Homo sapiens: one gene and its partners. The protein of the gene in region 2 purifies or fractionates together with the protein of the main gene of each other region. This does not show direct contact. Each region holds a gene or a part of one and is shown on either strand. Other genes may lie near its edges. The genes, in order: SERPINB12, TRIM50, NEK7 and PKP1.

Region 1 (7,714 bases), on a different chromosome or scaffold from region 2:
CCAGCTAATTTTTGTATTTTTAATAGAGACAAGGTTTCACCATGTTGCCCAGACTGGTCTTGAACTCCTGGCCTCAGGCGATCTGCCTGCCTTGGCCTCCCAAAGTGCTGGGATTACAGGCATGAACCACCACACCTGGCCAACATTTTAAAATACTTTTGATCCCTTTATCCTTTTATTCTACATTTTGTACAATTCCACAGCTCAATCTACTAGCTAACTCTTCAGCTATTTTCATTCTATTATTCAATCTACTTAATTGCAATAATCAAATTTATTTCCAGAAACTCTAAATGAATATTTTTAATAATTCTCTGTTCTTGTTTTATGGATGCTATCAAGCATATTACTTATATATTTTTAAAAATCTCATTTGACCTCTTAACTCTGTTGAGGCTGATACCCTTTATTCATGTGATTATTTTCTACAGTCATGTGGTAGATCTGGGTTGTAGGTTTCTCTTCGTATTTGAGATTCCTCATTAGACTGTCTATGAATACTGCTTTGGGGTTTACCACAACTTGCCTTGGCAATTTCAGGGTGGTAGGGCCTGAATGTGCTTTGGGGCAAGTGTATTAGTGGCTTACAAACCTTGTTGGGAACTTCTACTTCTTGATACTTTCATTGAGTGGTGGTGATATATCTTCTGTATAACATCCAGCCAGACAGCCTGGTTAAAAATCCTAGTTCAATCATTTGCTGTCTGAGGGATGTTAGGCAAATTACTTAATCTCTTTGTGCCTCTGTTTCCTCATTTGTTAAGGGTGGATAAGTATAATAACCCACCTCTTAGGATGAGTGAGAGTGTTAAATGGGCACATAAAGGTCTTCGACAAAAGCTGGCACACAATAAGCACAAGTATTAGTGTTATTACTGTCCCAGTTCAGATATTTCATGGTTGCAGTCTTATTCTGGATATTGAAACTCATTCCATGCCTGAACCCAACATTGTAAAAAAAAAAAACCAGTGCTAAGGGGAAAAGTCACAGCTGCCAACAATTATTGGGCATAGTGAGAATTCTAAATGAGGAATTTCTCTTCTTCCATTGATTATCAATTGAGGTCATAGTTTTACTGAAGGAATTTTTTTACTGGCTGATATGGTTTGGCTCTGTATCCCCACCCAAATTTCACCTTGAATTATAATAATCCCCAGGTGTCATGGGAGGGACGTGGTGGGAAGTAATTGAATCATGGGAGCAGATCTTTCCTGTGCTGTTCTCGTGATAGTGAACAAGTCTCATGAGATCTGATGATTTTATAAAAGGGAGTTCCCCTGCACATGCTCTCTTGCCCACCACCATGTAAGACATGAGTTTGCTCCTCCTTTGCCTTCCTTGCTACCTCCTTCACCATGATTGTGAGGCCTCCCCAGCCATGTGGAATTGTGAGTTCATTAAACCTCTTTTTCTTTATAAATTACCCAGTCTTGGGTATGTCTTTATTAGTAGTATGAAATGGATTAATACACTAGCTTTTTGAGTCTTTGACTGCATTGGATGCCACTCAAAACAACATGCATTTAATTTTAATTCCTGTGATGTTTACAGCATGGTGTCAGGAGCTAAAGATAAAATATATCTGCATTCGCATACACCAAAATAGATCTGAGAATGGTTTTCTGTTCCATGCATACACAAAAGCCAACCAGCCTAGATATGAAATTCTTTAATCATATATTTTCCCTCAGACCTGCACACTAAGTTTCGCTATCTTCAGAAATTTTGTACAAAACAAAATTTGATGCTCATCTGATTTTTTTTATCCTTTATACATTATAACTATTTCTTTTTTTGCCCAAATGCTGATAGGATTACTTTCTCAATCTTTTAAAGTTTTTCAGCATGTCTGTTTTTGCTCTGCAGGGGGAGGGCGAATCATTCGGTATGATCCTGTGACTATCCAAGTTAAAAAGGTTTTCTTCCATCATGTCATGGATTGTTGACTTTATGCCAATTAGTCTTCTTTTTTCCTGAGAAACACCATAGTTGTTGGGTTTACTTTCTATTCTCTCTTTATATCTACCAACTTCTCTCTTATTATTTCCTATACATTCTAAGAGACACACTCAAATACACCCTATTCATCACTAACTAAAGTTTCCAGCATGTCAGTTTTGCTTCTTTATTGCCTTTAAATTCTATTTAAATTCTTCTATGGCATCTATTGCATTTTTTTGTTCCCTAGTGGTCTGTTTTCATCTCATTTAGCTTTTTCACATCTTATCAGAGTTTATCTTTGTGGCATTGCACTCCAATTCCATAGATTTTGTGTCTTCTTAAATCCTATTAATTATGCCCAAAATTAATATGCATTTTGGGCATATTTTCTAAAAGCTTCTTCCAGTTCTTGCTGTAAATCATTTTATGAAGTCAGTCTCTCTCTCTCTCTCTCTCTCTCTCATTTATAACATGATATATCTCTTCTTATTTGGCACTGATTTTTTTCATACCTTATACTTTTGTTTCTACTTATTTAATCTTGAACATGGAATGATCTGTTCAGGACCTATGTGTGTCAACAAGAGGTGTGCAAGTTTCTCAGCCCCGCTGTTGTGCACTGGATTGCTTTTTAAATCCTTTTCACCTCTCTGTAGCTAAAACTTTGTTGAAGCACATGAAGGGAAACAGTATTTAAATGGGAAATTTATTGCATTAGAATATGAGCATTTATAAATTAAATATCAAGTATATATTACAGTTAATGTAAATACTATGAATATATTATTATTTAATATGCTTAATAAGTATATTGATATGCTTAATATACTTAAGTATGCATATTTGGGGATATTTTCTGTTTTTATTGGGTAAAGAAAGGATTTGGATTCTTTTAATTGAGTAAGAAGAAAATAAAATGGATTTGGGAAACGAAGAATGCAAGACGAGTGGTGTGGATAAAGAACACATCTGGAATTGGCATTCAACTGTGGAGCAAAGAAATCCATTGAGACAACTGCACAAGATTCCTCACCCTGTTGCTCCAACTGGACCTCCGCCTCGGGTTAATGACAGTGTAATTTTTAAAAATACCAGCATGCAAAATCTGTAAACAGCAATTAGGAATGAAGCAACACATGTTCTGGCTTGTCGCAGCTCAAGGAAAAAAACTACAGAAGAGTTTGAGGAGTATGCGCTAGACAATGTGTGAAGTTATAAGGAGGACTTGAATTGAAATGCAATTGAACATACAGATTCTGTATCTATTAGGGAGCCTGTTGAGTACTATATGTCCATGTTTCTCTTACCAGAATATTTACAGTCAGCATAAGTGAAACAATTGTTTTTGAATCTACATTACCTCATCTGTTCTACCTGTCAACATTGCTATATGGAGAAAACCTTAAACTGAGGAAGTGGGGAGCTCATTCTCTTGTTGATTTAAAATCATGCTCTGGTTGGCTTTCCAGCAATTATATCAGCCTATGGACTTGTATGTTCTTTCTACCCCTGGGCACCATATTGCTGGGTCAATCTTGCTGGTGCAAGAAAAATGAAGAGTCAAGGTCTCCCTATTTGGAACATAATTTCCAGTGTCTGAAAGTCTTCCATCTAGTGTAGTTCTGCTGGGCTCAGGTAAATATTCTCCTCTTTGTATGGCCTGGGTCTGGGACACTTTAGACAGACAGTGTAGATAAAATATCCAAGAACTCTGCCACCAAGGCTTTTCCTGTCCTTGGCTCCACCAAAAGTATTTTATTGCTGATGACTAAACTGCCTAGGATGGAAAGAACAAATGCCTGTCCTCACCTTCTCCCAAGTCATAATTGGGAAGTCATTCAGTCTTCAAATGGCTGCAGAAAAAAAGAAACTAACTAATAAGAAAGACAGAGGGTGAAGGACAGCAGCAAGTACAAAATAAAGAGATAGACGTCTAAAATTCAAGTTGAGAGACAGCATGTGTTTCTGAACTCAGAGGAAGGCAGCAATGGGAGGAAACAGGCAGACTGACTCACTGGCAATGAGATGCAGGTGACCCCTCAACAATGCCTCACTGCCCAGCCTCGTTAACTTGTAGTCAGCAGGGACCAGGCACGGTGGCTCAAGCTTGTAATCCCAGCACTTTGGGAGGCCAAGGCAGGTGGATCACTTGAAGTCAGGAGTTCAGGACCAGCCTGGCCAACATGGTGAAACCCCCTCTCTACTAAAAATACAAAAATTAGCTGGGCGTGGTGGCGGGCGCCTGTAATCCCGCTACTCAGCAGGCTGAGGCTTAAGAATCACTTGAACCCAGGAGGCAGAGGTTGCAGTAAGCCAAGATTGCACCACTGCACTCCAGCCTGGGCAACAGTGCAAGACTACATCTCAAACAAAAAAAAAAGAAAAACCTGTAGTCGGCAGAAATGTCTTCTATATTCTGATGATCAGCTGGCTATCACTCTGGTTTTAGCATTGTCAGTTTTCATCTTTTTTATATGCCTTCATATGTAATTATGATGGAAAGCTGGGAGAAACTATTACTGGGGCAAGATGTATTTTTCCTGTGTAACTGAGATGAATTGTTAGTTTCATAGATTATGTATTTTTATATTTTTGGATGAAACAGTTTGAAGTTAAATTTATATCCCTAAAAAAATCAGTTGGCAACACATCGTATATATTTTAACTAATAACAAAAGTGCTTTATTCATTCAGAAGAAACTTCTTAATAAATCAAAGGTTAGTAAAGAATGTTTACTGATTTACATAAAGATTTAAGATTCTTAATTTTCCTCATTATTGTAAATAGATACATTCTCCCTCTCATGCTTCAAAATCTGAGAAATCCCGATGTAAATGAAAAAAAAATGTGTTTACCAAGTAAAAGAATAAGAACAAAAGAAATGCCGGGCAGTGCAGGCCTATATATAGGTCATGGTTTCCAGCTACGTGTCGGGCAGTGGTGCCAAGTCAGACATGGAAACAGCCCCCAAAACGTCAACCCCAAAAGGAACCACAGGGGACATGAAGTTTTTGGTTATCTGAAATTAATTTGACCCATGGGACATGCATTCTGGATAGGGCACTGCCTCAAACTGCCTCACGTTACCAACGTCAAATTGTTTTAGGTCGTAAGTGAGCTTCAACAATGAGAAGGTTGTATGGAGAACATGGAACTTGTCTCTCAGAGCACAAAGAAATCACTGGGGTAGGTGAGAAAAGGAAGAGGAGGCTAGCATGGGAGCAGGTGTGGTTCACCTGCCTTCTGCAAAAAAACTGCGTGGCCACACTGAACGACTGGTGGCAGCTGGGAGGAGGACAGCCACAAGGTGGGCCAAGGAAACTGAGCCGCAAGCAAGACCTGAAACCCACCTCGATAGGAAAGAGACTGACTCCAAAGAGATGTGAGTTGGACGTGTCAGTGGTCATGGCAGAACATTCAGCTAAGATAGAAATTAGGAACTCAGATTACCACACCAGAGAACAGAGGCCCTGAGTCCGCGAGTAGGAACACTCAGAGGTCAGGCCTTCAGTAGACTAGAGCTTGAGATGAGCCCAATGGCCTTCTTGACAAGGGTTTCAGGTTTTGTTTTGGCTTTTTGGGTTTTTTGTTTGTTTGTTTTTTGAGACAGGGTTTCGCTCTGTCACCCAGGCTGGAGTGCAGTGGCGCCATCTCAGCTTACTGCAGCCTCCATCCCCTGGGTTCAAGTGATCTTCCCACCTCAGCCTCCCGAGTAGCTGGGACTATAGGTGCACACCACCACGCCCGGCTAATTTCTGTATTTTTTGTAGAGTCAGGGTCTCAATATGTTGCCCAGGCTGGTCTCGAACTCCTGGACTCAAGTGATCCACCTGACTCGGCCTCCCAAGAAGTGCTGGGATTGCAGGCATGAGCCATCATGCCCAGCCAACAAGCATTGCTATGGACACCATGCCCAGGCTCAAGCCTGTTGTCACCATGTGGTCTGGCATGAGACCTCTCGGAAGACACAAAAGTCCACGTGGCCAGAAGGCAGAGAGAGGGGCACACGGAGGCCAGCCTCCACGTGGCCAGAAGGCAGAGAGAGGGGCACACAGAGGCCAGCCTCCACGTGGCCAGAAGGCAGAGAGAGGGGCATACGGAGGCCAGCCGTCCACAATGCCAGCAGCACTTCTCTTGACACCTGCCTGTGCTGGGTGCATAAAAGGAGCTAGCCACAGGTGGGAATTCTTGGAGCTAGGGGGAGGAGAGACAGAGGGAAGTGTTTGATGATAATGTTGGGGGACTCAATAAGGAAAACTGAGATAAACCTCCTCTAAATCCACTAGCCACTTTCCTGGGTCAGTGTCAAAATCACAAGACAAATATCATTCCCCTGCTCTGTGCAAAATGAGTGCTGGTTGGGGCAGTCACACATCTTTGAGCTATCACTTAAATACGCCCAAGCCCTGCCTTGTCCTAGGTGAAAAGACCTCACAGGACATCTTCCATGCAGTAGCTGTCAAAGGAAGAAACAGGGCATCTCGCCCAGTGATGACCACAATCATAACTATCCCAGAAACAGAGCTGAGTTTCCAAACACGTTCCGGTCAAACTACCCCAGAAACAGAGCTGAGTTTCCAAACACGTTCCAGTCAAACATGTTCTCTTGCTGCCCATGTTAAAGTGGCTTCTGAGTTTGCCATCTCTTAGAAATGGTCTAATGACCTGAACTTTTAGGATTCCTTCAAAAGGAGGTAGGTACTGTTCTGAATTGTGTTGACCTTCAGGTCACAGAGGGTGAATTTATATGCTTGAAAGTTTAGGGTAGAGAACAACAGCCCTTCAATACTAACAGACTCAGATGAAAATAAGCTACAGGGTGACAGAAAGATCAAGATAAGCACAAGCCGATGGCTGGAGGATGAAGGAGATGCTTTAGATATTACCAAAAACTCAAATGCCCATCTTATGCCAGGGGAAGATTGTATTGATATTTTCCTCCAGCTCCAAAGTACTAGACACTGCTCCCCTTTTAAGGAGAGCAGACCCTGCCATAAAAGAGAATGGTTTGGGTTTTGTTGTGTCTAATGAAAAAGAGAAAAGGGTGGTTGGCATTAAACTCCACCCAAGATCGTAGTGACCTTTCCGAGACAACAGCCCCAGTGGCTGCAGCTGCCTGGGTACCGTTTTCATCCACCTCCACAAAGGTTTTGTGGATAATTTTTGACAAGTACAAATTGGGACTTGGAGAGATTCCAGTAAGATCAGCCCTCGTTTCATCAAAGATATCCGTAATGCCCATGTCTTGTAAAATGGAATTGAGATCATAGCTGTCTTCCAGGGTGAACCGGGGGAAGGACAGGACCACCGATTCTTCTGACATGTTTTCTGAGCTGCTCCAGGCCACCATTTTTTCATAGGTGATTTTCCTTTCAAGCTACAAGAGGAAGGAAATAATATTTAGCATCAGATTATGGGACCACAAAGAATGCCCCAATTACTTCAAGGTGCCTGAGTCCCTTTCAGTGGGCAGTGACAACCTTCAAGACCTTTCCCTAAGCTAGAGAATAGTCTGATTTCATTTAAAACTTCAAGCAAATATCTTTCCTCTTTAGAAGAAGTTAGGGGACAACTCAGGTTCCAGTGTGCTCTGGTGTTTGAGAGACAAGTGTTCAAAGCACAGCAAAGCTCAGTCGATTAGTTGAGTTCTGTGGCCAAGCCCTCATTTTCTGAAGTTAAATTTCCTCTTCCATAAAAGAGAGATAATATGATTAAGTTCTTGCAAGCATTAATAAAATCATGTATATAAAGAACTTAACACAGTGATAGCA
Region 2 (7,276 bases):
GGCCTGATGGCTGAGAAGGACCCAGGACCTGAGTTTGCCAGGCAAGCCGAGGAAACGGTCCTGTAAAAGGGGGAGTGGCATGTGGACTCTGGTTATGAGTTCAGGGTGGCTGGGTGTAAGGCAGGATATCACCAGGAGTCGGAGCTGGGAGAGGTGGGAAATGGCCAGAAGCAACATCCAGGAGCACCGGGCATCCCTTGCTTACCCTCCTCACCCTTGCGCAGCAGGCAGTATCAGCCCTGCCTGAAACTTGCTCTGCAGATTGTGGGAAGAGAGTGGATCCATGTTCTAGACCCAACAAACGAACACGTGCAGTTCCCAAGCCTTCCTCACTCCCTGTTTATGGGAGACTCCGTGTTTCTCACATTTCTTTTAGTCTTAGAGACAATTTGGTCAGAAGACATGGGTTTAAATGAAGGGACAGAGGCTGGGCATGGCGGCTTACACCTGTAATCCCAGCATTTTGGAAGGCTGAGGCAGAAGGATGCCTTCAGGTCAGGAGTTCGAGACCAGCCCAGCCAACATGGTGAAACCCCGTCTCTATGAAAAATACAAAAATTAGCTGGGTGTGGTGGCAGGCACCTGTAATCACAGCTGCTGGGGAGGCTGAGGCATGAGAATCACTTGAACCTGGGAGGTAGAGGTTTCACCGAGCTAAGATCACCCCACTGCACTCCAGCCTGGGCGACAGAGCAAGACTCCATCTCAAAAAAAAAAAAAAAAAAAAAAGTCTTGGCATGGTGGCTCATAGCTGTAATCCCAGCACTTTGGGAGGCCAAGGTGGGTGGATTGCTTGAGCTCAGGAGCTCAAGACCAGCCTGGGCAACATGGTGAAACTGTCTCTACCAAAAATAGAAAAAAATTAGCTGGGCATGGTGGCACATGCTTATAGTCCCAGCTGCTAGGTAGGCTGAGGTGGGAGGATCACTTGAGCCCAGGGGGTTGAGGCTGCACTGAGTCGAAATCATGCCACTGCACTCCAGCCTGGGTGACAGAGTGAAACTCTGACTCAAAAAAAAAAGACACATTACTTGGCCCCCATAATTGGTTTCTGATTGGCAGGTCTGGTGTGGGGTCTAAGAACCTGCATTTCTGACCATTTCCCAGGTGGACCATTGACTTTCTACTGGGAATGGGTTGGACCATTTTCCAACCAACACTGCTGGTCCCCAAACCTGCACTCTAGAAGCACCACTATAGAGCGTTTCCCCTTCTAGGAAGGAGATGGGTCCTCCCTGAAGGGGCTGTGCAGGGGAGGGGATGATGGGCATTGATGGGCATTGTGACTGCAGTCCTGCACTGTGGATCTGGCTGGGCAAACATAGATAGGATGGAGGGGTGGGGTGGGCCACGTGATACCTCACTCTCTTGTACTGTGAACTGTCACCTGCAGAGCAGAGATGCCGCAGGCCCGGCCCTTAGAAGGCGCATTCAGCCCCATCTCCTTCAAGCCAGGCCTCCACCAGGCTGACATCAAGCTGACCGTGTGGAAAAGGCTCTTCCGGAAAGTTTTGCCAGGTGAGGCCCTGACCCGTCCTCCTTCCTGAGGGCTGCCGCCCAGGGCAGGTGGCAGTTCATCGATTGTATCAGAGAGATAATAAGCTACAGAGAACTCAGATGGAGGTTTGTGGAGGGTCCTAGTGAGAGCATGGGACTGAGTTTCCGAACAGCTTGGGTTCCTGCTTACTCTTTCCTTTCCTAGCTGCTGGCTGGGCAAGTTGTGTCATTTCTGAGCCCAGGTTCCTCATCTGTAAAGTGGGGCTATTTGCACCCACCCGGCCAGGCTGCAGAGCTTGTATATAGACATACGTGTGTTGCAGCTTAGTGCTTCATAAATGGTATTAGGTTGGTGCAAAAGTAATTGCAGTTTTTGCCATTACTTTTAAAAGTAATGTACTTTTTGTCTGGGCACAGTGGCTCATGCCTGTAATCCCAGCATTTTGGGAGGCTGAGGAGGGCGGATCTTCTGAGGTCAGGAGTTCAAGTCCAGCTTGGCCAACATGGTGAAACCCCGTCTCTACTAATAATACAAGAATTAGCTGGGCGTGGTAGTGTGCGCCTGTAATCCCAGCTACTCAGGAGCCTGAAGCAGGAGAATCACTTGAACCAGGGAGGTGGAGGTTGCAGTGAGTTGATATCGTGCCATTGCACTCCAGCCTGGGCAACAAGAGCAAAACTCCGTCTCAAAAAAAAAAAAAAAAGTAATATCCTTTTAAAAATGTCCTTCCTACTCAAAGGACAAGTGGTCTTCAAAGTAATGGCAAAAACCGCAATTACTTTTGAACCAACCTATTCTTGTTCTCTGTCAAAAACAACTCAAACACATTTCATTCCTTTATTACTAGCATGCTGTCTTGTACATAAGGGAGACTGCTAACAGAGCGATTTCATCCACCAAAAGCAAAAATAGGGTTTATATAAAAGAAGGGGCTGGGCACGGCGGCTCACGCCTGCAATCCCAGCACCTTGGGAGGCCAAGGTGGGAGGACTGCTTGAGGCCAGGAGTTCAAAACCAGCCTGGGTAACATAGTGAGACGCCATCTCTACAAAAAATAATTAGTGGGGTGTGGTGTTATGTGCCTGTGGGCCCAGCTACTGAGGAGGCTGAGGCAGGAGGATTGCTTGAGCCCAGGAGTTGGGAGGCTGCAGTGAGCTATGATTGCACCACTGCACTCCAGCCTGGGTGACAGAGGAGACCTCATCAGTAAAAAAGAAAAGAATGAAAAAAAAAAAAAAGGAAAGATAAGAAGGAAAAAAATTGCAGTTTGTGAACTGTGAATCCTGTTTGTACATCTCACATTTCTTTTTTTTTTTTTGAAGGAAAATTTGTATTATTTTCATGTACAGAAAACTCAACAGTGTACGTTTTACCCAGTTTAGTGGTAGTTTCTTTAGTCTTTGCCTTTTTGAGCTTGGCAATGTGAGCCACAGACTTGGGACCCAGGACACTGCCTCCCCAGTGATGGCGGATCTCATCACATTTGTTGTTGTAATTGGTCCTGGTAGCTTCCACCAGCTTAGCCCAAGCTCCTTTGTCTTCCAAGTTAACCTGTGTGAAGGCGACAGTGGTGCAGGTCTTCCTGGGGACTAGACATCCCAGTCTTGCCTTCCCCTTGATGATGCAGTCAGGGACCCCACTTTACACACAGGCACAGGCAGGAAGACAGCCAGCTTGATGGGACCCATGTTGCGTGGAGTCACCACCAGCTGAGCCTTCCTTTTTTTTTTTTTTTTTTTGAGACAGAGTCTCTGTCACCCAGGCTGGAGTGCAGTGGTGTGATCTCAGCTCACTGCAACCTCTGGCTCCTGGGTACAAGTGATTCTTCTGCCTCAGCCTCCTGAGTAGTTGGGACTATAGGCGTGTGCCACCACGCCCGGCTAATTTTTGTATTTTAGTAGAGACGGGGTTTTTCATTATGTTGGCCAGGCTGCTTGCAAACTCCTGGCCTCAAGTGATCTGCCTGTCTCAGCCTCCCAAAGTGCTGAGATGACAGGCATGAGCCACTGTGCCTGGCCCAGCTGAGCGTTCTTGTTCTCCATCAAGGTGGTGACGGTGTTAATTCCTGCTCCAAGGACAGGTGGCCTCTTAGTGGGGACATCCCCTTTGCTGGCAGCTTTCTTCTCAGTCAGGGCCAACAGTCTCTGCTTCTTCTCTTGCTTTGCCCCTGGTCTGTACTTCTGGGCCAGCTTAAGCAGCTGAATAGCTGTTTGGCGGTCCAGGGCCTGGGTGAACTGGTTAATAGCAGGAGACAGTTTCTGCTACTTATAGAGGATGGCTGTCCGCCACTGCACCCTGACCGAGCAGGACCATTGCACAAAGTGGGCGAGGTCCGTTTTGGCCTGGAAGTCCTGTCCAGTGCCAAAAGTCTTAGGCCTTTTCTCAAACGGGATAAACCACTTTCTTGGCCTCCTGCTTCTTCACGCCAGCAGGGGCCGGAGCCACCTTCTTCCCCTTGGCCTTCTTTCCTTGCGGCAACTTGGGTGGCGGGAAGGGGTGGGAGGCGGGCAGGGGGGAGCACATCTCACATTTCTGGGGTAAACGGATCAGCTGGTAACTAGCAAAAAGCTCAGGTGGGCTAGTTCGTCCTTGAATAGGCTGACTAGGCTAGCAAATCCAACAGCTGCAGTTGTTATGGGTTCTCCAGAAATCCCTGAGGGCTGAGCTATAGGCTCACAGGACAGGTGTCTTCCGGGTCCTTCCCACAACACCTCTGTGTCAGGCAGGCAGGCCAGAACCCCGAGCCCAGTGTCCATTTCTTTCTCCAGCCACCTCAGCCCCCCACAGCCCACCAAGCTGCTCCCTTTTATATAAACACTGTTTTTGCCTTGGGTGGATGCAATCAGTCTGTGATTGATCTTCCTTATGTAAAACTTCATTCATTCATTCATTCATTCATTCATTCATTCATTCAGGGAGCAGCCCTGTACTGGCCCCTTCTAGACCCTGGGGCTAGAGAGATGAGGAAGACACAGCCCCTCTCCTTGGGGAGTTCAGGGCCTCCATCAGCTTCTGTGGGCCGGGTCTGCTGCCCTCCACGTGGCCTCACAGACCCTCTGTGATCTCCCTCCCAGCCCCGGAGCCTCTCAAGTTGGACCCTGCCACTGCCCACCCACTCCTGGAGCTCTCCAAGGGCAACACGGTGGTGCAGTGCGGGCTTCTGGCCCAGCGGCGAGCCAGCCAGCCTGAGCGCTTCGACTACAGCACCTGCGTCCTGGCCAGCCGCGGCTTCTCCTGCGGCCGCCACTACTGGGAGGTGGTGGTGGGCAGCAAGAGCGACTGGCGCCTGGGGGTCATCAAGGGCACAGCCAGCCGTAAGGGCAAGCTGAACAGGTCCCCCGAGCACGGCGTGTGGCTGATCGGCCTGAAGGAGGGCCGGGTGTACGAAGCCTTTGCCTGCCCCCGGGTACCCCTGCCCGTGGCCGGCCACCCCCACCGCATCGGGCTCTACCTGCACTATGAGCAGGGCGAACTCACCTTCTTCGATGCCGACCGCCCCGATGACCTGCGGCCGCTCTACACCTTCCAGGCCGACTTCCAGGGCAAGCTCTACCCCATCCTGGACACCTGCTGGCACGAGAGGGGCAGCAACTCGCTGCCCATGGTGCTGCCCCCGCCCAGCGGGCCTGGCCCCCTCAGCCCCGAGCAGCCCACCAAGCTGTAGGGCCGCCCGGAGTCCTGCCGGCCCACAGGCCCATCCCGGCGGGGCACCGGGGACTCGCGGGCTTCTGCTGGGTCCCGCCTGAGGTGATATCGTCACTGTTTAGGAAGGTCTTCAGGCCTGTGTGTCCCTGGAACATGTAATGATAGGGAACAGGACCCCAGTCCCTTTCCCCTCAGCCAAGGGTGTATTTGTAAACTTCGGCCCCCAGGCCTTGGCAGCCAGGGACACACTGAAATCCCCATGGTTCCTGCCACTTGCTAACCATGCTATCTGCGCAGACGCTTCCGAGGGCAGAAATAGTCCCATGTATACCTTTTCCATATTACTGTGAACTTTCAACTACTATCAAGGATAATAAATTTGACATTATTTCTTTCTCTTTAAATGATTTGCACATATTAGTTGCTATACATACTGCTTTATGCTCGAGTCTTTTTTTTTTTTTTTTTTTCCTGAGATGGAGTCTCTCTCTGTCACCTAGGCTGGAGTGCAGTGGCACGATGTAGGCTCACTGAAACCTACACCTCCCGGATTCAAGTGATTCTCCTGCCTCAGCCTCCCGAGTAGCTGGGATTATAGGCATGTGCCCCATACCCAGCTAATTTTTGTATTTTTAGTAGAGATGGGGTTTCGCTGTGTTGGCCAGGCTGGTCTTGAACTCCTGACCTCAAATTATTTACTTGTCTCAGCCTCCCAAAGTGCTGGGATTACAGGCGTGAGCCACCGTGCCCAGCCTCGAGTCTAGTTTCAGAGACAGGATCTTGCTCTGTCACCCAGGCTGGAGAGCAGTGGCACAATTGTAGCTTACTGCAGCCTTGACCTCTCAGGCTCAAGTGATCCTCCTGCCTCAGCCTCCTGAGTAGCTGAGACAACAAGTGTCTGCCACCATACCCAGCTAATATTTAAATTTTTAGTAGAGACGGGATCTTGCTATGTTACCCAGGCTGGTCTGGGCCTCAAGCAATCCTCCCACCTTGGCCTGCCAAAGCGCTGGGATTACAGGTGTGAGCCACTGTGCCTAGGCTGTCATGCCCCTTTGACTCACCATACCCACAGGCTAAGTGGGTCCTGGAAGCTCTGGGGTAGCCCTCTAACCAAGATGCTGGCTCTGGCCACTGGAAGTCAAACTGGGTGCACAGACCAATAAGAGGGCCTGAGGGAGACTAGCTGGGGCAAACAGCAACCCTCAGCCTCCCCACAATCCTGACTTTCCTCCCTCCTCTCCTCAGTCTCCTTCAAGGATTCAGCCTCTCCTCCTGGCCACTCATGGCCTGAGGACCTCCAGGCTCCTCTTCTGGCTGTCTACCCCTCCACACCCATAGCTCCAGTCATCACTTCCACAGGGATGACTCAGAAGTTCCCTCTCCGGGAGACCCGTCCCTTACATGCCACATCCAGTAGCGCTCCAGCCATTCAGCAGCTCCGCCTGGACGTCAAGGGCATGTCCAAAACCGCGCTCATGATCTTCCTACTCCCCCATCCCTGAGATTTATCCTGTGGCTGTGGTGTCCTGTGGCTACTGTAACAAATGACCACAAACTTGGTGGCTTCAAACAAATTTAATCTCTCATGGTTCTGAAGGCCAGATGTCCAAGATCACGATGACGGCAAGGCCGCGCTCCCTCTGGAGACTGTCGGGGAAAACCTGCCCCTTTCCTCTTCAGCTTCAGGTGGTGGCTGCCATGCCCTGGTGTTTCCTGGCCCTGTGGCCGCATCATTCCAATCTCTGCCTCCGTCTTCACGTGGCCTTTTCTGTATGTGCCGGTCTAATCTTCCTCTGCTTCTTATTTTTTTTTTTTTTTTTTTTTTTTTTTTTTTTTTTTTTGAGACAGAGTCTTGCTCTGTTGCCCAGGCTGGAGTGCAGTGGTATGATCCCAGCTCACTGCAACCTCCGCCTCCCAGGTTCAAGCAATTCTTTTGCCTCAGCCTCCTGAGTAGCAGGGATTACAGGCATGCACCACCACACCTGGCAAATTTTTGTATTTTTAGTAGAGATGGGGTTTCACCATGTTGGCCAGGCTGGTTGCGAACTCCTGGGCTCAAGGGATCTGCCAGCCTCGGCCTCCCAAAGTGCTGGGATTACAGGTGTGAGTCACTGCGCTTGTCCTTCCTCT
Region 3 (7,753 bases), on a different chromosome or scaffold from region 2:
CTTCAAAATCCATTATTTTCAAAGTAAAATTACAAGCTCAACATACAGAATAGAATGGAGAGAACATAGCTGCCAATCTGCCACAGATTGTCAAGATGGGAGGTTGGATGGATTGAGATCCATTTGGAGGTCTCTGGGGACTCTTGGATCCCTTCTCTGATTCTGAGTGTGGAAAACAGGGCTCAATTCTGTCTCTAGTGATTATATTTTACATTGCAGAACCTTCTCATTAGAAACAGAAAGAAAGAAGGGAAGAAAGAAAGAATGGAGGAAGGGGTGGAGGGAGGAAGAAAAAAGCTCTTGCTGCATTTTTCTATTGATTGGGAATTTGAATAAGTGTGAGTTAATTTGCACAATTGTATTTCCATTCAGTATTAATTGGACATTACCCTCTAGCTGCCTCTGTTTTACGCTGTGATAAACCTCAAATTACTGTAGGAAGTTAAAGTTTATTCTTTTGGATTATCCCATTCCTTTCTGCTTTAGTGTGGATATTGTGACATCTAGTTTAAACCTAATTTCTTCATAGAAGACAGAAATGATATTGTGAAGATATTCTTACCTTATTTATTAGGGAGCAACGCCTTAAACCTTTGTAAGGAGAAATATATTTGCATTTTAGACATATTGATTCTTGTGACATATTACACTTGTGCTGAACAGGAAAACCCATGGTTCTTTATTTTTAAAAAGTCATCTCTGCAGCTTAAAATACAAAATTTTATAATATTGCTGACCAATGCTTTTCCTTTTTGAAGAATGCTAACCTAACTCTTTAAAAAAACCCTAAAGAATTAAATATTGAATTTCCTCATGCAACTTGTTATTTTAAGGCTATATTACTTGTCTCAAGAACTGTATTACTGTTCCCAGGTCCACTAGACTCCTTGAATACTTTGGTTGAGTTCATAAAATATTGGTTTTATCATTCATTTCTCTGCTTACAAATTTTTAATGAGATACCATCCAGAATCCTCAGCTTAGTTTTTAAGGCCCTTCCCTACTTTGTGCCACTCCATTTAGTTCACTGATTCAGGGCTATTAACAAAGGATGTGTTCAGCTCTGGCCATTTTCCTGCAGGTTTGCCTGTTACCTGTATGGGAAAGAAGAGTGTGTGCGCTAAATGCATGTTACTTCTTGGAAATCATAAAGGGATCTGAGAGCCTACAGTATATGGCAACATTAACCAATCTTTTTGAAAATTTACCTGTATCCCATCATGGTTCATTTGCAAAAAAATAAGATGGTACCTTAACTAATAAAACAATTTTGAAATTCTCTGTACCAACTTTGCTTTTCTTTCTCTCTTGCCTCCTTCTTCAGTGCTTCCCTTCCTGCTGATCATTGAATTCATTCCTCCAGTATTTATTGGCCACCTAGTGTTTATTGGTCAGTGTCTAAGGCTTTAGGAAGATTAAGATAAACATAATGAGACTCATGGGATTCTAGTGGGGGTACAACAAAGACACCTCTAACATAATGAGATAGGCACTCATGTGATAGGAGCAGCCTTGAAGAGAACAGGTGTGAGGAGGAGCTTAGGAAAGAGGCTTCACAGAGTTCGTGAGCTGGGTCTCAAAACTTACGTTCTTTATGTTGGAAGATTATCAAAAACTTATTTTGATCTGGTATATGCAATCTCTATTTTATTATATTTTGCTCATTGATTAGAGCTATAGGAATGAAGTTGGTTTTTATTTCATCAGTCTGACATAGTGTTACAGTAGTGTGAATTTTGGGTCTCACTGTTTCTTAGTTCTTTGACCATTGTACTCTCATTTTTAAATAATACGTGAGGTATTTTGATCCTTTGTTCATTAATGCTTAATTTCGCTTTGCTTACTCTTAACTATATTTCTAGATAACACTATTTTACTGTGTGGCAGCCATTGTCAGTGAGTTTTTTTTAGGAAGAAAAGCTAAAATAATACTTTATGTATTTATACAAATAAACATAAAGTGATAATATTGTTCAGATTTACCTTTTGATTCAGGTGATCTCAAAAAGTCTTCCCCAAAGTATTCTTTGATATTGAATGCTTACCTTTTATTTACTTATGTTTGTTAGTTGCTTTAAAGTATTTTTCAAGCAAATAACTTTTTAATTTCTATTAATAAGTTACTTTTTATCATCTTAAGTTTAGATTCTGCATGTTTGCATATAATTAGAAATTAGGATTATATATGATCAGAAATTTGTGGACAATGATAGCACTTCCATAATACATAGGCTGATTTTAATATATTCGTAACCTCTGTGGCTCTGCCTTCAATCTCTTTTTCAGTGTTCATTGTGATTAATAAATTTATCTTGCAGCTTTTATGAACTTCATTTAATCTCTATAGACTTCCTTTCAGATTTCCAATTGTTATTTGAATAAATGAAAACTAAGCATTTGTAAGAATAATTCATAAATGACATTTAAAAGATACAGAACAATTTGGTAAATTAATGTTAGTTTTTACTTGTCAAGGTGGAATAGGCTTTTATCTTTAAAATTAAAGCTTTTTAATTTTAATTACTTGTACTTGCAATCTTAAGCATTTCTAAGCAGATAAGAAACAGAAAATTTCCAGTTTTATGGATTGTTTAACATTTTGGGGTTAAACTACTATATGGCAGACACTGTACTTGACAATAGGGACACAATAGTGGGACACAATAATTAAATCCAACATTTTTGTGTGGAAAATAGACAATAAATCAAATAATTATAGCAAAAAATAAATCAAATAATTATAGCCAAAAAGGAAATGACCATGCTGTGGTATTAGAGACAAACTAGAGGAGGAGAGCATTTTAGATAGAGTGTGCAGCAAAGGCCTCTCCGAGGATGTGAAATTTAAGCGTAGGTGGAGGATAAGGAGTCAGTCATCTGAAGGGTAGTGACAGGAAGGTTCCAGCTGTAGAGCCGGGCACGGTGACTCAACGCCTGTAATCCCAGCATTTTGGGAGGCTGAGGCGGGCAGATGACGAAGTCAAGAGATCAAGACCATCCTGGCCAACATGGTGAAACCCTGTCTCTACTAAAAATACAAAAATTAGCTGGGTGTGGTGGCACACGCCTGTAGTCCCAGCTACCTGGGAGGCTGAGGCAGGAGAATCGCTTGAACCCGGGAGGTGGAGGTTACAGTGAGCCAAGATCACGCCACTGCACTCCAGCCTGGAGACAAAGCAAGACTCTCTCAAAAAAGAAAAACAACAACAACAAAAACTTGCTTAGTATATATTTTTAAGTACTTTGTTTTCTGCATTTTAAATGGTCTTTCTTCTAACAATTTGACATATGCCTTTTTAAGGGGATATTTCTGTTAAGTTACTAGAAGGATTTCATTTCCTTTTAAAGAAATCTAGTGTTAACCTTTTCAGTTTCATTAGCTATGAGTAATTTTGGCAAAATTTTAAGATGACAAAAGAAAACCTTTAAAATGATTCAGAGAATACCAAGAATTTATCAGTCATTACTTGCCTAACCACAGCTCATCCCTTGCTCTTACCAAGTATAAAATGAGTTTAAAAACCTGAAGAAACTTTGGTGGAGCTGAATGAAAATGATGCCTCCTAAAGACTTGTTTGTACATATTATATGCAAGATATTCTTACAAAGTCCATATTTTCACCCAAGACATACTGCTTTTTCTTGCTCATGAAATCATCGGACAGCTTTGAATCTGTGTTTGGGAATGATGTAATCTAAATATTCATTATTATTTATTTTTGTCTTGACTTGTTGGCTGAGAGAAAAAGAAAGATAAGATACTTCTGAATTTCCAGTTAAATGTATTTGTAAATGTATTTTGCTCAGAATTTAGTTTTGCTTTAGATGTGCCATCAATGCTTATTTCTCCCTGTGTTTGAGGAGTGACTTTTGATATTATTGAAAATTCAGTTAAAAATAAAAGTCAATTTGTAATTCTAAATTAATTTTTATAACTTGAATTAAAGATTTTCTATGTAGCATGTTTCTATCTTGATATGTTGTATCTTGTTATGGTTTCCTAAAACTCTTATACATCTATTATTCATTCTTATCTCACTCACCCTCTTTTGTTTTTAAAAATGTTGTTCCACATCATAGAGACATTGATTACTGAGAGATTAAATACATATATGTCTCCAAGTTTGTGATTTTCTTCATTTTAATTACTGGTACTATATGGGCATTATTCTTTCTCTGCCTCCTAAAACAAACAAACAAAAATACCAGGAATTACATCAAGATCTGATATACTTACAATTTTGTGCTTTCCAGTATATCTTTGATTTATCTCAAATTCCTTGTAAATAGCATTTCCTGAGAATGGCATCAGCATTTATGATGTGTCAAGAATCAGTTATTTCTCATGCCATTTTGATTTAAAGTGCAAGTAGTCTGTGTGTGTGTGTTTCATACCTATAACTAATATCAAGTTCAAATTTTTCTGTTTCCATTAGTGTTTGTTTTATTGTTTAACATGTTGATATAATAATCCCTTTGGGGGAATGAATGGCATTTCTATGTGAAATTGCTAAATGTAAAGCTTATTCCTTCAGTTCAAGAACTTTCGATTTTACACACACACTCACACACACACACACATATATATTTTCCTGAAGGGCATTACGCATTCCTGCTTATATAAATCAGTTATTGAGAGCCCTTCCAGCCAGCCATGCTCACCCCCATTAAGGTTCTTACATCACTTTGAACAAGTAGCACTTACAAGTTGCGTGTTAATTTTCTGTGTTGCAGTCTGCATTCTGCATCTGACACTGTGCATCTTAAAGGACTGCAAGATGGTTTTCTTATTTGTATCTGTAATAAAATCTGATAGTAAGATGGCATTCAGCATGGATTTTTATATGTAGAAAGGGTGGGCATTAACAGTTTAAGCTTGTCTGTACTCAGGATCAGGTTATTCATATTAATAATTTGTGTGTAGAGTTAAAACTATGATGCTCTTGGAGAAAATTTCTGCAAGGTTTTTCCTTCCTTCCATAAATAGTGTCATATGGTTTGTTCTTTAATACTGGTAATTTTTTTAACCCCTGCTATTGGTGTCCATTTATATCTAGCTCATTTTGTCAAAGCTTAATGTATACAACAGCTTAATGTTAGCTAAAACATATCTTACTAGATAGTTTATGTGAACTTTGTGATAGTGATTTGCCACTCATAGTCCTTTCCTTTTTTTTTTTTAACCCCTTTTCCTTTCCTTGCTGTTGTTTCATCGTGTTGCATTCTGTTCCATTCTGAAATCATGGTAGTTAACATGAGTTTACTGTGGCTGACATGGTTAGAATTACTGCTAATGGAAAAAAGAGAAGTTAACTCTCTTTAATATATGTACCGGCATACATATTTCTTCTTCTGTTATTTGATTAAGTGGGAGAAACTTTGATGTAATCTAGTCTGTCTCTTTTTGTAAACCATCAAGTAAGGTAAGGCTTTATATTTTTTCAAATCTTAAACTGCAGTGCTCAATATTTTACATTAAAAGTTGCAGAACGTAAATTTGATACTTGAAGTTTTCATTAGAAGTAGTAGAACCAAAATAATGTTAGTGAAAAAGCATATATATCATTTTATATACTGCTATTTTCACTATGCAAAAAGCACATGCGTTTGTACAAGAAATAGAAGGGACTGAGCCAAAGCTAAAATTCTTTAAGGCAGTGAGTTTATGGATTTTATTTTTGCTTTATAATCTTATCTAATATCTTCATATGGTTTTTTAAATTAAGACAAATTAGAACTTTGTGTATCTTTGGATATTAAGAATGATATCTAGAAAAAGTTGCCTCTTATAAGCTGTAATTTTACACCCTTATTCCATATTTACTTTTATGCAGTAGATATCTTTTGTTTCTGACTGGCAGAATCCTATAATTCTTTCAAGGTTCACCTCTAATGGTACCCGCCACCCTACATGGAAGGAATTTCTTCCTTAGGTTTCTAATACTACACTTTGTACACACATATATTTTAATACTTATTAGCTAGTTGTGTATGCATTAGACTTTGTGACAGCCTGGCTCATTGAGAAAACACTGACTATGGAGCTAGAACAACCTGGCTTCAAGTCCTGATTCTGTCCTTTACTAGTTTTATGATCATAAGCATATTATTTAATCTTTTTGAGCCTCAATCCTCATCTTGTTATTGTGGCCAATACTACCTGTCTTATAAGATTGCAATGAAGTTTAAAGCATCATGTGTAAAGAGGCCAGCCCTCTCTGGTAGTGTCTAATAACTACTTCTTTAATTAAAAAGACTTGGATTCTGCCACTCCTTTGACATTGTACCTTCTTTTCCTGGAATGTTAGCTGGCTGAATCAGGAAGACTTGATCAAGCTGATTACTAAAAATGTCATTAATTTTTTTATTTGTTATGTAACTAGGGTTTTAATCAGCTTGCAGTACTGACTTAGATTTTTTTTGCAGTCTCTAAGATATTGCTTTTTTAAATGTTATTTTCCACACACTTAGAACCTTGAGAGATTTGTGTTTTCAGAGACACATGAAATATCTTTTTGATTGTATTTTTTATTTTTATGTTTTTAACAGTAGGTTAATATTTTTCAACCTTTTCTTCATTATCCTCCCCCCAAGCTGCCTGTTTAGACATTTCTTCCTAATTACCTCTACCCATGAAATTTTAATTCCACAAATACAGTATATCTGTTTATGTGTAGTACTGTATGTGTATCTATACTTTATACTTAATAGAGTAAAATTTTGTTACCCTTCTCCACAAAGAACCAATTTTCACCCCCTTGGAATGATATCACCCTTGTCAAGAATGCATGCATCAGACCTTTTAGACATGATTTGATGGAACAGATTAATGGTTCAGTGCTTGGGTTCTAGATGGATAACTCTGAGAATGAATTCTGCTTGCTCTGTTGATTAGCTGTGTGACCTTTTGTCATTCTCCTTAGCTTTCTAAAGCTTCTCTTCTTCATCTGTAAAATGGGAATACTACTATTATCATCCTCATAAGGTTGTGCAGTACATTTAGCATATATTAATTGCTCAACATATATTAGCTATTACTTTATCATCTTAATAATCACAACTTTAATTTTGTTCATTGGAACTTAAGACCTGAGTGTTAAGGGGTATCTACCTGTTCTCTTTATCCATTTTTTAAATACTGACTGCTGAAAATGTAAGCAATGTTGGTAACATAAGATACCTACAGAACTCCTTAATAAAGAAAAGCTAATCAGAAAGAAAATTCCTTAGTGTACAAATAATTACATGTAGAGTATTAAAATGAATTTACACAATAGCTTGAACCATAGGTTATTATTTTATTAAGTAATTCTGGGTTCTGTTTTTAGATATTTGATTTAATGGATGCCAAAGCACGTGCTGATTGCATCAAAGAAATAGATCTTCTTAAGGTAATTAATGAACTGTTGACTCTTTTGAACATAACATGGTGATAAAAGTGATTTACTAAAATATCACACTTAAACACAAAAAGGTTTTTAAGACTTATGCTACACTGATTTCAAGTAATATTATATAAGGTTAAATTTCAGTATACTGAAGAATGTAGTTATTTTTTGGATTTATTGTTAAATAACATAATCAGAACATTTGTAGGACCAGCTTTTTTTTCTCATTTCAAAGTAGGAAATAGATAAAATGGGCATAAAACATTGAAGAATTTTTTTTTCTTGACCACCCCAACAAGACATATTCTAAAGGTTAAGTAATATAAATGCAAATTAGCATTATCTCAACATGTATTATATTGAGA
Region 4 (7,753 bases), on a different chromosome or scaffold from region 2:
TGGCCATAGTCTTCTAAATTGATTTTATAATCCACAATGGGTCACAGCCTGCAGTTAGAAAAGTAATATATCAGATGATGGCTCAGGTTCCTTCCACGCCAAACATTCTGGGATTCTGTAAGCGTTATTATGGGGGCTGGGGAGGGCTGTATCTCATGCCCTGCTGGATCCAGGACCCCCATTTAGGAACCTTGACTGAGCTTTTCTCCCTTTCCCTGGCCAGATCTACAATGGAACCCTCAAGCGGGAGCCTGACAACAGGCGCTTCAGCTCCTACAGCCAGATGGAGAACTGGAGCCGGCACTACCCCCGGGGCAGCTGTAACACCACCGGCGCAGGCAGCGACATCTGCTTCATGCAGAAAATCAAGGCGAGCCGCAGTGAGCCCGACCTCTACTGTGACCCACGGGGCACCCTGCGCAAGGGCACGCTGGGCAGCAAGGGCCAGAAGACCACCCAGAACCGCTACAGCTTTTACAGCACCTGCAGTGGTCAGAAGGCCATAAAGAAGTGCCCTGTGCGCCCGCCCTCTTGTGCCTCCAAGCAGGACCCTGTGTATATCCCGCCCATCTCCTGCAACAAGGACCTGTCCTTTGGCCACTCTAGGGCCAGCTCCAAGTGAGTGCTGCTGGGCTGGGTTGGGGAGCCAGGAGGGCCAGTGGGGAGACACACCCTTAGCCTGACTGCACCCTGCAAAGGGCTCCTGGGATGACAGGAGAGACATAGCTTCTGTCCCTGGGGAGTTCATTGCCCCTGGTGTAATGGACTCCCTAATGGGGAGAACCTGGCCCCATGGGCCCTTGAACTCAAGAAGTTCTTAGTGTGAAGGTGAAACAGACATTGACTGTGTAGGTTTTAAAGGTCACAGTTTATGAACAGAAAGAGGCTAATAGTTCTCAAAGTGTGTTCCTCCAACCAGCAACATCAGCATCACCCAGGAATTTGTTAGAAATGCTCATTTGGGGACCCACCCAGACCTATTGTCTCAGAAACACTGGGAGAGGGGCCCAGCAATGCATATATTAACAAGCCCTTCAGTGATTCTGATTTACACTAGAGTTTGAGAACCTCTGATCTTAGGCATGTAAATCTCTATCCATGTTCTGAAAGAGCAAAGGAATATGCCCCGGTATGGACGACGGGAATAGAATGGGTTTCAGGTTACGTTATAAGACAGGTAAATCCAAAGGACAAATAGGACAAATAGACATAAAAACTGAGGGACATGGCCTGGGTGTGGTGGCTCACGCCTGTAATCCCAGCACTTTGGGAGGCCGAGGCAGGAGCGGGTAGAGGGTGCTTGAGCTCAGGAGTTTGAGACCAGCCTGAACAACATGATGAAACCTTGTCTCTACAGAAAAATACAAAAATTAGCCAAGCATGGTGGCGGGTGCCTGTAGTCCCAGCTACTCAGAAGGCTGAGGCAAGAGAATCACTTAAGCCCGGGAGGGGGAGGTTGCAGTGAGCTGAGATAGTGTCACTGCACTCCAGCCTGGGCAACAGAGTGAGACCCTGTCTCAAACAAACAAACAAACAACAACAACAACAACAAAAACCCTGAGGGACTTCATGGGGCTTCATGATCTACTGCTACAGAACAGAGCACAACTCCTGTGCATACATGTGGAAGGCCATCACCCAGAGGAAACAAAGGAGACCAAATGGGGTGCCCCGTTAGGAGCCATAGACGCAGAGGTGTCGTGAGTGACACTGAGCCTGCCCTTCAGGGCTGGGGGCTCCCTGAACCTTTGAACTGTCCTTCATCACCACCTACTGCTCTTGTTATTTATTTATTTGGCAAATGTTTGCCGACCATCTACTACATGCCAGGCTCTTTGACAAGTGCGGGAGACACAGCCATGATAGGGACAACCCAGAGCTGTTCTGGAGCTACACAATTAACTCCTTTTCTGAGAGCCTCAGGAGCTTTGCATTCTTCATCTTTAATCCTCACACCCGCCACCAGGCAGGCATGAGTATTCCTGAGGAGAAAACAAGGCACAGAGATGTTAAGTAGTTTGTCCAAGGCCACACAGCTGGCTCTCCATCCTGTGCTCTTCCCTACTGGTACCACACTGTTCTGAAAATAAGCAGAACCCCGTTATAGAGCTAGACGTTTCCGAACTACCTGATGGCCGTAAGGCGTATTTAGGATGATCTGGAGAAGAACTAAGAAACCTCTCTGTCTTGGAGGCTGATCAGGGCAGCCTCTGGCTTCAGCTCATTGTCCCAACCAGAGGCCCTGAGTGGAGGTTCTAGGTGAGATATGGAAGGGATGAGTGTCAAGCCATTTTGGGGTGACATTTTACTGATGAATGCAGGGTGACATTCTCTCAATGCAGGCAGCAGTACTACTTACCCAGTGCCAGAGAACTCTGCACCTCGGGTGGTTTTCCTAGAAATGAAGTTGGGCTGCTATAGCTAAAACCATGGGTATTTATTGACCACCAAGTATGTCAAAGCATAAGGATAGGGCTCCCTCTTTGAATGCTGGACACAGCCAGTCACCACCCTGTGACTCTACACCAGGGGAGCTGGAGAGGTTCTTAGAAGAGAGGTTTCCCTTCCCTAGGAAGGCTTCACAGATGTGGGGCATCAGCAGGGCCAGTGGTGTGCCTTGAGGCATGCCTGAGACCTGGCCAGGGTACAGTGAAGGGGACAGTCTTGCTGGAGCAGACCCTGGATAGGGGCTGGGGAATGTTCATAGTGGAGCCGGGTTATTAGGTTAAAACATATGAAATTTCTGGTTTTATGGCTGAAAAAAGGTTGACTACAGACATTTCCTATGATTCAACCTAATACCTGCCCTTGGACATCAGGCTAAGCTGTTTAAACTTGAACCTGAAGTATGGAGAAGCCGCTGATGGTTTCTGAGCTAGAGAACAACACAGTGAACTGGGTTTTAGAACCACTTATCTAGTAAAAAGGGTATGAAATTTTAGATGGGGGAACTTGAGGAAGAAAGCCAAATATGGAAGTCCCTTGCTGCCTTTAAAGTGATCAAGATCAGGAAATTGGTGGCTATAAGAATGGGAAGAAAGGCTAGATGTGAACATTTTTGTGTAAGAGCCAGCTGGACTTGGGGATGGATAGATGGATGGATAAATGGATGGATGGATGCATGGATGGACAGATGGACGGACAGACGGACGGATGGATGGACAGATGGATGGACGGATGGACGGACGGACGGACGGATGGACGGACGGATGGATGGATGGATGGATGGATAGGATCATGGCCATTGTCTTCCATTTTCCTAATACCAGACACAAACAAGAGAGATGGCAAGGTAGGTGGGAAGCTTCCCCTCAGGGAATAGGGAGGAGTTTTTCCTCAGTGGAGAGATAACATACCTGCTAGGACATTAACTGTGACCAGGGGCTCACTATTCTCACATGGGGCAAATCCAGTGGGTGTAGCCTTCCCTCCTCTGGAGGAGAGGAGCTGTTCCCAGGGGTATTCTCCAAGTGGGCCTGGGCTGCCTTGTTCTGGCTCTCCAGAGGGCAGATGAGGCTGTGGCAGCTTAGTGTGCTGGGAGGAATTCTGAGCCCCCTCAGCAGGGCTCCCAGCCCACCCCGTAACCACCCCCACTGCCTATTCTTCACAGGATCTGCAGTGAGGACATCGAGTGCAGTGGGCTGACCATCCCCAAGGCTGTGCAGTACCTGAGCTCCCAGGATGAGAAGTACCAGGCCATTGGGGCCTATTACATCCAGCATACCTGCTTCCAGGATGAATCTGCCAAGCAACAGGTAGCTGGTTGCATACCTTCCTCCTTGGTGGGCCTGCGGAGGGCCTGGGTGTGTCAGCCTGACTCCGCTTTTAGAGATGGGTGAGGGCATCTGCAGTTGGCTTCTCTTGCCTTGCCCAGCTGCCAGGAGCCTTCGCATTGCCCAAGGTTAGAGCTGGGCATCTTAACTTTCTGCAGAGCAAAGCCCTCTGTTTAAGTGGACATTAGGCAGGTACAATTCCTCCATTGGTCATGGAAGAGACTTCAATGCCAGCCACGGGTTCAACAGAAACCCCTTTTCTCAAATCCCACTAAAGAACATGACTGCTCCTCACCTCTCAACTCCTGCCCTCCTACCTGCTTCCTCTCTCCCACTCCCCTTCTCTCTCCAGGCATCTTACGGTAGAAAACAGGCCTGTTGATGCCTCCAAAGCTTTGCTGGCAGGAAGGACACTACAGGGTTCTTCAGTTCAGCCCAAGGATGTAGTGTCAAAAATGAGTTTCCCAGAGTCCCGGATAAGTTTGTATGCATTTCTATGTCTGTGTTCTGCTTTAGGGTTTTGAAATGTATTTACATCCACTCTCTTATCAGGTCCTCACCATCATTCTCCAGAGGAAGAAAGCAGGACTCAGGAAAGAGGAGGGACCCTAGCTGAGGTTCTCCCAGCTAGGATATGGGAGCTAGGATATGGGAGCTAGGATCTGAATCCAGGTCTTTTGCCTCCGGGTCTGGGTCAGTTATCATGACCTCACACTGCTTATTTATTTTGGTTGACTTGAATATTTCTGAACTGATAGATTTTTTGGTCTGAAAAAAAAAATCACCTTTGAGTAGAGAATAACTAGATCAGCCTCATCTCCCTTGACCAGGCAGCGTGGCAACTCTTTCCTGGCAGGTCTATCAGCTGGGAGGCATCTGCAAGCTGGTGGACCTCCTCCGCAGCCCCAACCAGAACGTCCAGCAGGCCGCGGCAGGGGCCCTGCGCAACCTGGTGTTCAGGAGCACCACCAACAAGCTGGAGACCCGGAGGCAGAATGGGATCCGCGAGGCAGTCAGCCTCCTGAGGAGAACCGGGAACGCCGAGATCCAGAAGCAGCTGACTGGTAGGACAACACGGCCACCGAGAGCCAGCCTGAGGGCTGTGCAAGGCCACTGGCTATGGCCCCAGGCTGGGGTGCAAGCCTGTCTCTCCAGGCTGGGCCAAGACACAGCTGTGCAGATTTGGCCCAGGGCTAATATCCTGAGAGTTTAGTGACACTGGCCTTGGCCCAATTAGGGGTGTCCAGAGGGTGACCTTGGGTGGTGTGCACACACAAGGGGTCACCATCTTTTTGAGGTTAAAGAGCAAAAGGAGGAAGGCTGATGTCCAGGCAAGATCCATATTCCACAAGCCCTGGGATTCCCAGGTGATGGAAAGAGAGTAAGACTGAGGGGAGAAGGGGTTAACAGGCCTTAAGCACCTACCCTGTGTTCAAGAAATATGGTAGGCACTCAAGGTGGGGGGCACAAGAGGAAGAGGTCACCGTGAAGACCTAGAATTGGGCTGGGAAGATCAGACCATGTACAGAGTAATGACTGATAAGTATTTCTGGCATAACTTTCAGATGGAAAAGAGACAGCGTTAGAAGACTCCAAGTGCTAAAATTTATACTAAAAACCACTGATCAATCAAACGTTTTTTGATCACTTTCCACATGCATAATTTTGGCCTTGACAGAGAACTCTGAGATGTTCCCTGCCTGCAAAGAACCTTCAGTCTGGTTGGGGCATTGAGAAATAGCCTCATGACACAGACAGACAATAGGTTCTACAGACCAGGGCTACCTGGAAAGCGACATTTCAGTAGGGCCCATTTGCCAGAGTCCAGGCTGGGGCTGTTACCTCGGTCCCTAGGGCATCCTGAGCCTGGCACAAATTGGGTTGATGGTCTCTGACCCCCAGGGCTGCTCTGGAACCTGTCTTCCACTGACGAGCTGAAGGAGGAACTCATTGCCGACGCCCTGCCTGTTCTGGCCGACCGCGTCATCATTCCCTTCTCTGGCTGGTGCGATGGCAATAGCAACATGTCCCGGGAAGTGGTGGACCCTGAGGTCTTCTTCAATGCCACAGGCTGCTTGAGGTGAGAGAAGAGGATACATGGGGTCTTTTTGTCCCAGCCTTGGGCCCTTCCCCAGGCAGCCCCATCTCAGCCAACATTCAGCCGGTGCATAGAACATAACAGACAACCCGGCACTCCCTCTTATGGGCAGGCTCCAAGACACAGGGACTCAGGCCTTCCTAACTTCCCTGGAACTGGATAAGGCCCAGGACCCTACCACCCCCTTTGAGAGAATGCAGCGGACATTAGTCAGAAATCTGAGCTTGAAAATGCCTAGATCTGAATATCCAAACTGGTTCAACCATTTCCCTCCTCCACCCCATGAAAAAAAATGCATTTCTTGTGCTATCATCTTGAAGAGTGTTCTTTTAGACAAAAGTCTACCGATGGGTTGCTAATGAGTCACTTCCCAGCTGTGGTGTTAAAACCATTTGCCATGTTCATTGGCATGAAGATGGCACTGCTTCACCCAAAGTTGCCTAAGTTCCATACCAGGGTGTGGCAAAGCCCCTGTGGGGCTGGTGGGAGGGCTTGTTCTAGAAGCAGTGGTTTACAAGCTGGCGAAATGGGTGGGTGTGGAGGGGCGGCTGGTACAGGGCTTGGAACCCTGGAGCAGGATCCCTTTTAGGGTCTTTAATGGGGTTTGTCTTGCTTTAATGGGATTTGTCTTTCCCAACTCCTGAGAATCCCCCCAGAGTGGTGGGTGCAGCTGGCATGTGCCTCTGTGTCTCAACTTGTGTTTCTCCCTGCCAGCCTCCGGTAGCAGCCTCCAGGAAGCAGAGAGGCTGGGGAGATGAAAAGTGAGGATAATTAAGAGTTTTATGGGGTTGATGTGCTACTGGTAGCAACAGCAGCCACACCCCACCTGCACCAGGCTGATGAGCCCACATTGCTTGGGGATGAGCCCACATTGCTTGGGAGTGAGCCTACTGCTGGGGGCAGAACACAGCTTGGGTGGAGAGGGAGCTTCTGGTGCCCAGCCCGGCCACCCCCAGATCCACTTCTGATCCAGCATCAACAGGGCTTCTTCCTGTCCCACAGAAAGAGACTGGGCATGCGGGAGCTTCTGGCTCTTGTTCCGCAAAGGGCCACTAGTAGCAGGGTGTGAGCCTTGGGATGCAGCTGCGGAGGGACCGTTGCCACATGGAGCCATTGCCAGTTATAAAGTTACTGGGCAGAGTGAAGGAGGAGAAGAACTGAGTGCAAATGAGACCTCATTTCAGCCTCAGCCAGGGCCAGGCGGAATTGGCTAAATGGTTTCTCTTTCCTTCCGTTTTCATCTTTTCCTCTCTTCATTCCTTTCCTCCCTTTCCTCTTCTCCTTCCTTCCTTCTACCACAACTTCCAATCTCCACCCCGTCGTCTCCTCTCTGCCCTCCCCTCTCCTGCCTGTTCTCTCTCCTGCCTGTCCCCCACCACACTCTCTTGTCCCCACCTTCCCCGTTCTCTCTTCCCCCTTTCTCTGCCCTCTTCCACCCTCTTCTCTCCCCCAGGAACCTGAGCTCGGCCGATGCAGGCCGCCAGACCATGCGTAACTACTCAGGGCTCATTGATTCCCTCATGGCCTATGTCCAGAACTGTGTAGCGGCCAGCCGCTGTGACGACAAGGTGAGTGCATCCCCTGGTGGCACCCTGACCCCTAGGCCCAGCCCCCTACATTTTCTGGGTGCCTTTGAGGCCTGGCCCAGTGACAAGACAGGAGCACAGACTCAGGGGTGGTAGAAGAGGCATCTGGATGCAGGGCTCAGTGGTGGCTACAGGAGTGGGCTCTGGGGACAGCGTGCCCATGCAAATCCACTCTCCCTCACTTAGAAGTGGAGTAGATGCAGCTGCTTCCCTAATCTCTCTGTTTCCCGGTTCACTCTTCACTCTAATGGAAAGGGTCATAATCATATCAACCTCAAGGGTTGTCTGAAAGGCTT

Evidence for each region.
Region 1: the proteins of TRIM50 (region 2) and SERPINB12 purify together in Homo sapiens (affinity purification with mass spectrometry, with the first as the bait; one study listed by BioGRID). This does not show direct contact.
Region 3: the proteins of TRIM50 (region 2) and NEK7 purify together in Homo sapiens (affinity purification with western blotting; one study listed by BioGRID). This does not show direct contact.
Region 4: the proteins of TRIM50 (region 2) and PKP1 purify together in Homo sapiens (affinity purification with mass spectrometry, with the first as the bait; one study listed by BioGRID). This does not show direct contact.

The regions. Positions count from the first base shown.
Region 1 is NC_000018.10:63,566,213-63,573,926, reverse strand, and holds the end of SERPINB12 (serpin B12), read right to left. Parts: intron 7,321-7,714; coding exon 6,916-7,320; 3' UTR 4,598-6,915; downstream 1-4,597. UniProt on the Homo sapiens protein: Inhibits trypsin and plasmin, but not thrombin, coagulation factor Xa, or urokinase-type plasminogen activator. May play a role in cell differentiation.
Region 2 is NC_000007.14:73,310,807-73,318,082, reverse strand, and holds the end of TRIM50 (E3 ubiquitin-protein ligase TRIM50), read left to right. Parts: intron 1-1,393; coding exon 1,394-1,518; intron 1,519-4,413; coding exon of another isoform or gene 4,414-4,454; exon of another isoform or gene 4,455-4,572; coding exon 4,573-5,162; 3' UTR 5,163-5,547; downstream 5,548-7,276. UniProt on the Homo sapiens protein: E3 ubiquitin-protein ligase that ubiquitinates Beclin-1/BECN1 in a 'Lys-63'-dependent manner enhancing its binding to ULK1. In turn, promotes starvation-induced autophagy activation.
Region 3 is NC_000001.11:198,255,247-198,262,999, forward strand, and holds part of NEK7 (serine/threonine-protein kinase Nek7), read left to right. Parts: intron 1-7,328; coding exon 7,329-7,391; intron 7,392-7,753. UniProt on the Homo sapiens protein: Protein kinase which plays an important role in mitotic cell cycle progression. Required for microtubule nucleation activity of the centrosome, robust mitotic spindle formation and cytokinesis.
Region 4 is NC_000001.11:201,312,943-201,320,695, forward strand, and holds part of PKP1 (plakophilin-1), read left to right. Parts: intron 1-223; coding exon 224-618; intron 619-3,610; coding exon 3,611-3,755; intron 3,756-4,629; coding exon 4,630-4,837; intron 4,838-5,675; coding exon 5,676-5,853; intron 5,854-6,873; coding exon of another isoform or gene 6,874-6,936; intron 6,937-7,324; coding exon 7,325-7,439; intron 7,440-7,753. UniProt on the Homo sapiens protein: A component of desmosome cell-cell junctions which are required for positive regulation of cellular adhesion.